Homo sapiens: one gene and its partner. The protein of the gene in region 1 interacts with the protein of each later gene in a pairwise test. Each region holds a gene or a part of one and is shown on either strand. Other genes may lie near its edges.

The links. The genes of interacting proteins can lie anywhere in the genome.
Region 2: the proteins of PPP1R3B (region 1) and PLCE1 interact in a two-hybrid assay, tested with the Homo sapiens proteins (one large-scale study listed by BioGRID).

What each region holds. Positions count from the first base shown.
Region 1 is NC_000008.11:9,144,159-9,147,658, reverse strand, and holds part of PPP1R3B (protein phosphatase 1 regulatory subunit 3B), read left to right. Parts: intron 1-2,148; exon of another isoform or gene 2,149-2,408; intron 2,409-3,500. UniProt on the Homo sapiens protein: Acts as a glycogen-targeting subunit for phosphatase PP1. Facilitates interaction of the PP1 with enzymes of the glycogen metabolism and regulates its activity.
Region 2 is NC_000010.11:93,992,744-93,996,730, reverse strand, and holds the start of PLCE1 (1-phosphatidylinositol 4,5-bisphosphate phosphodiesterase epsilon-1), read right to left. Parts: upstream 2,801-3,987; 5' UTR 2,473-2,800; exon of another isoform or gene 991-2,472; intron 1-990. UniProt on the Homo sapiens protein: The production of the second messenger molecules diacylglycerol (DAG) and inositol 1,4,5-trisphosphate (IP3) is mediated by activated phosphatidylinositol-specific phospholipase C enzymes.

The DNA of each region.
Region 1 (3,500 bases):
AGGTCTTCAGCTAAGTCTCTTCAGCCTGCGGGATTAGAACTTGGGACATTGGCTCTAGTGGGCTGTGTGTAGATTCTTTGATTGATCCTTTTGCTTTGGCTGTTTCCACAATATCTTGAGAGTTTCCAAGGCTTTTCCTAACATGCAGAAAAAGCACGTAGGAGGCTGGTTTGCAGGCTTCTTGGAAGTGCAAAGAGAACTTGCAGATAACCTGTGCTGACTCAGTTGAGGAGGAAGCTGTGAAGAGGAACCCTTCCTCCCTCAGTTCACACCCAGATTTTTCAGGATGGGTAGAGTGGGGGGCACTGGGATGCCAGATATAGCCTCTTGTTTGGTTTTCGTACTTGTTTAAAAACAAGGCTGGGCACGGTGGCTCATGCCTATAATCCCAGCACTGTGGGAGGCTGAGGGGAGCAGATCATGAGGTCAGGAGTTCGAGACCAGCCTGACATGGTGAAACCCCGTCTCTACTAAAAATACAAAAATTAGCTGGGGGTGGTGGTGCACGCCTGTAATCCCAGGGGTGGTGGCACGAGTAGTCCCAGCTACTTGGGAGGCTGAGGCAGGAGAATCGCTTGAACCCGGATGGCAGAGGTTGCAGTGAGCTGAGATTGCGCCACGGCACTCCAGCCTGGGCAACAGAGCAAGACTCCATCTCGAAAAAAAAAAAATTAAAAATAAGACAAAACAAAAACACTACCTGTGTTACAGTTAGAGCTGAGGGTATAATTCCAGCACAGTTTTGCAAAGGACAAGAGTAACTAAAATTTAGATATTTTGTAAGTATAGGATTTTTTTTTTACATTGAACCTGTTAGTCAATCCGTGGAACCTCTGCAAACCTACCTTGCCTAATTCAGTCAGAACTTTCCTTTCCAGAACAGTTACGTGGCTATAAGAACAGATCATTGAAAGCAAATTTGCCCTTAAAATTTTCACTAGATTGATTTTCTTAAAGGGGAAACAGTGAGACAGATATCCTTTAAAATGAATGTTTAAGCACCTGCATTCTGGCCATAAGTTATTGTTTTATTTGTTTCCGAATATGTGTATTTCTCTGACTGGCCATCTGTAAGGGTTTCTTGCATCCCAGGGAAGTTCTGTACTTTTGGAAAAATGGGGTCAAATCTGATATGTGTTCGTCCGTTCACCTTTTTTCTTTACATGTTTGGTTAATCACAATCAGAAGGTGAAAATGAGAGGTTATTTATAGAACTGAACCAGTGGTCCCAGCTCTTTACAGAAGACACTTGGCATGTTGCCTGTCACTTCTCAGGGGTGGCCATGGCTGCTTGAGAGTGAGCTCCCCAACACGTCATCACACACCTACACCTGTGCCATAAGGAGGGGTAAGATAGGTTGAGGGGAGATAGGTTTGGGGACTCATCCAGATCCTGTGTTCTGTGATTCTCAGACTTGAGATTTTAATCCTAGTTTCGGCACTCATTTCCTTAATTTAGTCCATTGAAACTGTCAAATCAAAATATAAATTTGCCATGGTAATTAGAATGATAAAAAGTGCTCAGATTTTGGGAGGCTGAAGCGGGAGGATTGCTTGAGCTCAGGAGTTTGAGACCAACCTGGGCAACATGGTGAAACCCTGCCTCTATAAAAATTGAAAAATTAGCTGGGCATGGAGGTGCACACCTGTAGTTCCAGCTACTTTGGAGGCTGAGGCGGGAGGATTGCTTGGGCCCAGGAGTTTGAGGTTCCAGTGAGCTATGATTGCACCACTGCACTCCAGCCTGGGCAACACAGCAAGATCCTGTCTTATAAAAAAAAAGTGCTCAGCTTTAGTGAGGCAGTAGTGATGGGATGGGTTTTTGGCATATCATAAAATATTTGAGGATTTTTTTTAGGTTCATTTTGTTCTGATGATAGAAGCAATATTATTTTAGAAGATATAATACAAACCAGGATACCAGAAATTCCTGAAATCTTGTCACCTAGGTATTCTGATTTTAAATATATATCTCTAGTCTTTTTTCTCTGCATTTACATAATACAGTTGATCCTTGGACAACATGGAGTCTAGGGGAGCCTAGCCCCCACACAGTCAAAAATCCACATATAACTTTTGACTCCCCAAAACCTTCACTTCTAACAGCTTACTGTTGACCAGAGTCTTACCAATAACATCAACAGTCGATTAACACATATTTTGTATTTTATTTGTAACATATACCGTATTCTTATAGTAAAGTAAACTAAAGGAAAGAAAATGTTAAGAAAATCATAGGAAAGAGAAAATATATTTACTATTCATTAAGTGGATGCGGGTCATCATAAAGGTCTTCATTCTCATCCTCTTCACGTTGAGTAGGCTGAGGAGGAGGAAGAGGAGGAGAAGGGGTTGGTCTTGCTGTCTCAGGGCGGCAGAGGCAGAAGAGAATCTGAGCATACGTGGACCTACAAAGTTCAAACTCATGTCGTTGAAGTGACAACAGCATTTTTCCCCACAAGTCTAGTTTCTATGTACAATTTTATCTTCTCTCTCTCTATATATATATACATATGTAGACATAAATATAAATATATAATATTTTTTTTTCATTTCATTTGAATCTTTTTTAAAATAATGGCTTTAATGATGATATAAAATTACATCACATGGGCTGGCCATGATGGCTCCCCGCCTGCAATCCCAGCACTTTGGGAGGCCGAGGCGGGTGGATCACCTGAGGTCAGGAGTTTGAGACCAGCTTGGCCAACATGGTGAAACCCTGTCTCTACTAAAAATACAAAAATTAGCTGGGCGTGGTGGCAGACTCCTGTAATCCCAGCTACTCGAAAGGCTAAGGCAGGAGAATCACTTGAACCTGGGAGGTGGAGGTTGCAGTGAACCGAGATTGTGCCATTGCACTCCAGCCTGGGTGACACGAGTGAAACTCTGTCTCAAAAAAGGAAAAAATAACAACAGTAAAAATAAAAGTACATCACATGGATGTGGTACATTTAATTTAACCAGGTACCTGTTAATGGTCACCTAGGTTATTTTGTCATCTTTTTCCCCCTATAATGTGGCATTGAACATTTTAGTACCTTAATCTCTGTGTGTTTTTAATTCTTTACCTAGGATAAATGTCTCTATGTGATATTAGGATAAAAAATGATTAAAAAATTAGAAAGTTTGTACCAATTTTAACTAATGAAAATGTTTGCATTGGCTGGGCACAGTGGCTCATACCTATAAATCCCAGCATTTTGGGAGGCTGAGGTGGGAGGATTGCTTGAGTCCAGGAATTCAAGACTGGTCTGAGCAACATAGTGAGACCTCGTCTCTACAAAAAAATATTTTTTAAAAATTAGCCGGACATGGTGGCTCATGCCTGTGGTCCTAGCTACTCGGGAGGCTGAGGTGGGAGGACCGCTTGAGCCCAGGAGGTGGAGGCTGCCATAAGCCATGTTCATACCACTTCACTCCAGCCTAGGTGACAGAGTAAGACCCAGTCTCAAACAAAAAAAAAAAAAAAAGAAAAACTTGTATTATCTTTTCAATTT
Region 2 (3,987 bases), on another chromosome or scaffold:
CTTGGTTCCCAATCTGGCCCACGAAAATCTATTTAAGCCATAACACAGATGAATTATAGCCTCGGTAAAAACCCTGCATTCTGCATCCAGGGAGCAGAGAGGAACACATGATGCTAGAGAGAGTTCTGCCCTTCTTTGTAGGCCACATGGTTGGCCTATAACAAAATGCATCTTTGATATCGTCTTCCTCTCTTTCTCCATTCCCTACTCCTCCATCTCCAACTCTCCTCTTTGGGCCTTACATAACTAAATCACATGCTTCCCTAAAACCCTATCAGAACCTTCCACCCCTCTTCCAGAAGCACCATGTTTCCTAATCACCTGTCTTCCCTCGCCTCAACCAAACCCCTACTTGCTCAATGCCACAGATCTCAACTGAACGTTGGGAGGAAAGCAACTTCAGCAAACAAATTCACACTCTTAGCTGCTTCTACTGTTTTTGGCTTTTCCTCTGCTTCTCCTTCTGAACCCAGAAGCTCTGTTTTATTGTTCTTCCACCGCAGAAGTAGTTCCGGCAGAGAGAGAAGGCATTAAGACTAAAGCAACTGTCCTATATAGGCGCCTGTCAGCCAGGTGTGTGGAACACACACGCGCGCGCACACACACACACACACACGTGCAGCAAGCCTCACTCTGTGCAAATCCCTCCTCTTGCCCAGGCATGGGAAACGTCCCCTGCTGTCTACTTTAGAAAACTCTTCCACCATGCACAGTATTTTTTCAATCTTCTTTTATTCATTTAGAAAGTTACAGGTAACAAATTGCACATCAAACAGTTTTTTTAAAGTATACAACAAAAGCCCAGAGAAGAATGTGACTAAGAATGGTTGTAAATAGAAAAACAAAACCAACCGCCTTCATTGGAATCTAGCTTCTAACCCACTGGAGTATGGAATTTTTAATGACAGGTCAAACTTGGACCACATCCCAGGAGTTTATGTTACTAAGAGGACTGGAAGAATGTCCCTCCAGTTCAATCTGGCTTCTTACCTGGTAAGACATGGCTCCTGGGTATAAAGGGAATTTCCCCCATGGGGCTGTAAATAAAGGATAGTGTTAATGGTAAACATTATACATTCCTCTAGCTCCTTTCAATTATATTATCTCCTTCTCCAAAGTAGATATTTATGTTGTAAAACCAAAGTCTTAAGATTTAATACTGGCCCACAATTATCTCTAGAGTCTTCTAGGTGCAAGCATTTTGCCATGAAAGCCACAGCAAATGCCTTCAGTAGGGAAAATGAGACATCTACATAAATAACTCCCAGAAGGTAGAGAGCAGAAAGGGCCCTGGAGAAAAAATGCTGCAGAAATCAGAGCAGGGGGAGGTTGGCTGTTTCAGGAAAAGCCTCACACCACCAGCAAAACACAGTTTGAAGGATGGTTAGACTTTAGAGTGGTGGATGTGGGGGAAGATGTGCCATCAGATGGTCTAGATGACAACACCATCAGACATTCTTCAGAAAAGTATTTATGAAGACATCGATGCATACAATAACCTAGAGATAGTCCACCTCTCTCCTCAATGACAACTGGGCACCTGTACAAGCACCTATGGGGTCACCTGCTTCCACCTCCCAAGTCAGGCTCTCAAAAATTCTCCCTAGTGGGGTCAAGCATTCTTGGCCTCAGTAGTGCCCATTCTGTGGCAGCGGCCCTGCCCTACCTCTACGGGGGGTATAAGAAACATGAAAACATACCAATCCTGCAGAGATCTAAAAGACCTACGGGCAAATTTTGCATAATGCAACTGAAATTATGACCTTCGTGCAAATAAAACTTTTCGAAGACGTGAATCCTACTTAACAGGTATTCAGGGAACTCACTATTTAAAATGACACTGATTAATCACTAAATGAGTCTTACACTGAATAATTGGTTAAGTCGGCTGAACTCAGTGTCTGATGGCTTAAATACAGAGCGAGGGGCGAAAGCTTCCACAAATTTACGCTGTGCACCTAACATTCGCCACGACAGAAGACTTCTTGCTCTAGTGTATTTATTACTGTAGCATTAAAGGACTTGAAGGCAAAGCTAGCTATTCTAGTTATCAGTTAGAGCGGGACCTGGTCCAATATTGTATTTTCTAGGACTTGATGTACACAAATCTCTCCAGGAACAATCTCTTGAGCACTTTCCTTGAAATACCGCTGCTAAGTACCGCCACAAAAAGAGCTTACGTTTTTCTTTGCACTGGCCACCTCCACACCGTATTCACAACACGAAGGGGCGACCTGAGGCAGGCGTCTGGAGTGAAGGCACTGGCAGGGTGTCCTTTAGCCCCTGCGAGGGCGGCCTGCATGCCCTGGAGGACCGCCCGCCTCGGGTCCCCCGGGAGCGCGAGGACACTTTTCCGCCAGGTACGCGGAGTCGGGCTGCTCCCTTAGGCGGGTCGACTGCCTTGGGAGAGAACCAGCCCATCCTTCCCTTTCTCCAGTCCTCAGGAACCGAGCTACAGAGTCGCTTCCTCACCTCTTGGCTCCTGGCGAGTCTCGCCGGCGTCCCCAAGCGCAGCGTCCCTCTGGGACCAGCCGTCCGCGCGCCTGTCGCTAGCGGCGTCGGGTGTCCCCGCTACTGTGTGTCAGCTGCAGAGCCGATGCCCAGGAACGCGCAGGAGCCAGGCAAGTGCCCGAGAGGCAGAGCCCGGGAGGCAGAGCCCGGGAGGTAGAGCCCGGGCGCGCCGCCGCTGCCCCTCCCGCCGCGCGAGCCCGCCGCCCGCCGCGTTGCCCACGTTGCCCAGCGTTACCGTGTGGACCCGCGCCGTTCACAGTCCGCTCCCGCCGAGATGTGCGCGCTGCCCGGACAGCGGCGGCTGCGCGGGCGGCAGCGGGGCCCCCGCCCTGGGCCGGGCTTTCCCAGAACTCGCCCGCCCCGGGTGAGAGGCCGCTAGCGCCACCGCGGGCGGCCGGGCGGGGGAGCGGCCTGTGCCGGGCCCGCCCCCGGCTCCTGCCGCGCGGGGAAGGCGGGCGCGGAGCGAGGACCCGGCCGCCTCCCCCGGAGCTGGCTGCTGGCGGCGCGACCCCTTCCCAGACCCCTGGCCCTGACCCCTAGGAGCCATCCTTTCTGGCGGGAGCCAGAGAGAGCGCTCCTGGGGCGCCCGGCTCCGGGAAGGGCGGGAACTCTGCACACCTCAGGCGGCGGGAATTTACTCTCACACTACCCCAGGGAACCACCCCTGGTTGACAGATATGGAAACTGAGGTTCACGGCAGATAAAGGACACGATCAAGGTCTCTGTAGTAGATGGCAGCACCAAGTCTCGAATCTGTTCTGTCACTCGTTCATTTAATACATATTCATTGAGCCCCATCAATGTGCCCAGCGTTGTGCCAGGCTCCGGAAATACTCCTTTTGCTGGTAATGGTGGCCATCCAGGACTGCGGACTCCAAATCCAGTACTCTTTCATTGCTCAAGCAAACCTGAAGATCTTCACAACTAGAAACTACAGGCTTTGCACAGAACTTCCTTAGCCGCTGGAGCGGCTTTTATGAGTCTTAGGAGAGCCAAGGACCTGGAAAAAAAAATCAAATCATCATCCTCCTCCCTTTCGCCTAAACCTGTGCCTCCTCCCTCTACCTGTTCTAATGGAAGACCGTTCCCTAGGCCTGACCTCTTCTCCTACATCCGATCAGGACCCATTCCTGTGGCCCATATCGCCTCCCACTGTCCTCTCCCTTGGACCAAATCAATCCTTCAAACCACCGCTGTATTATTCTTCCTTTTTTACAACTTTAATCTATGCAGAAAACTTCACTGGCTCCCTATTGCCCTCCAAACTAACTCTCCATGGCTGTGTAACCCAGCATGCCCTGGCTAATAAGGATCACCCAACAGAATGTCTCTCCCACTCTAGCTCTGTACCTGAACTTAAGCTGAGCCTTCTACCTGGAGCATCTCCTCCCACACACTTTCCTCCTGCTCATGTTTGACCCTTTCTTTCGGGTCCCTCTTAAAAGTGATCTCTCCTTCTTGGAGGCTCCAGAACAC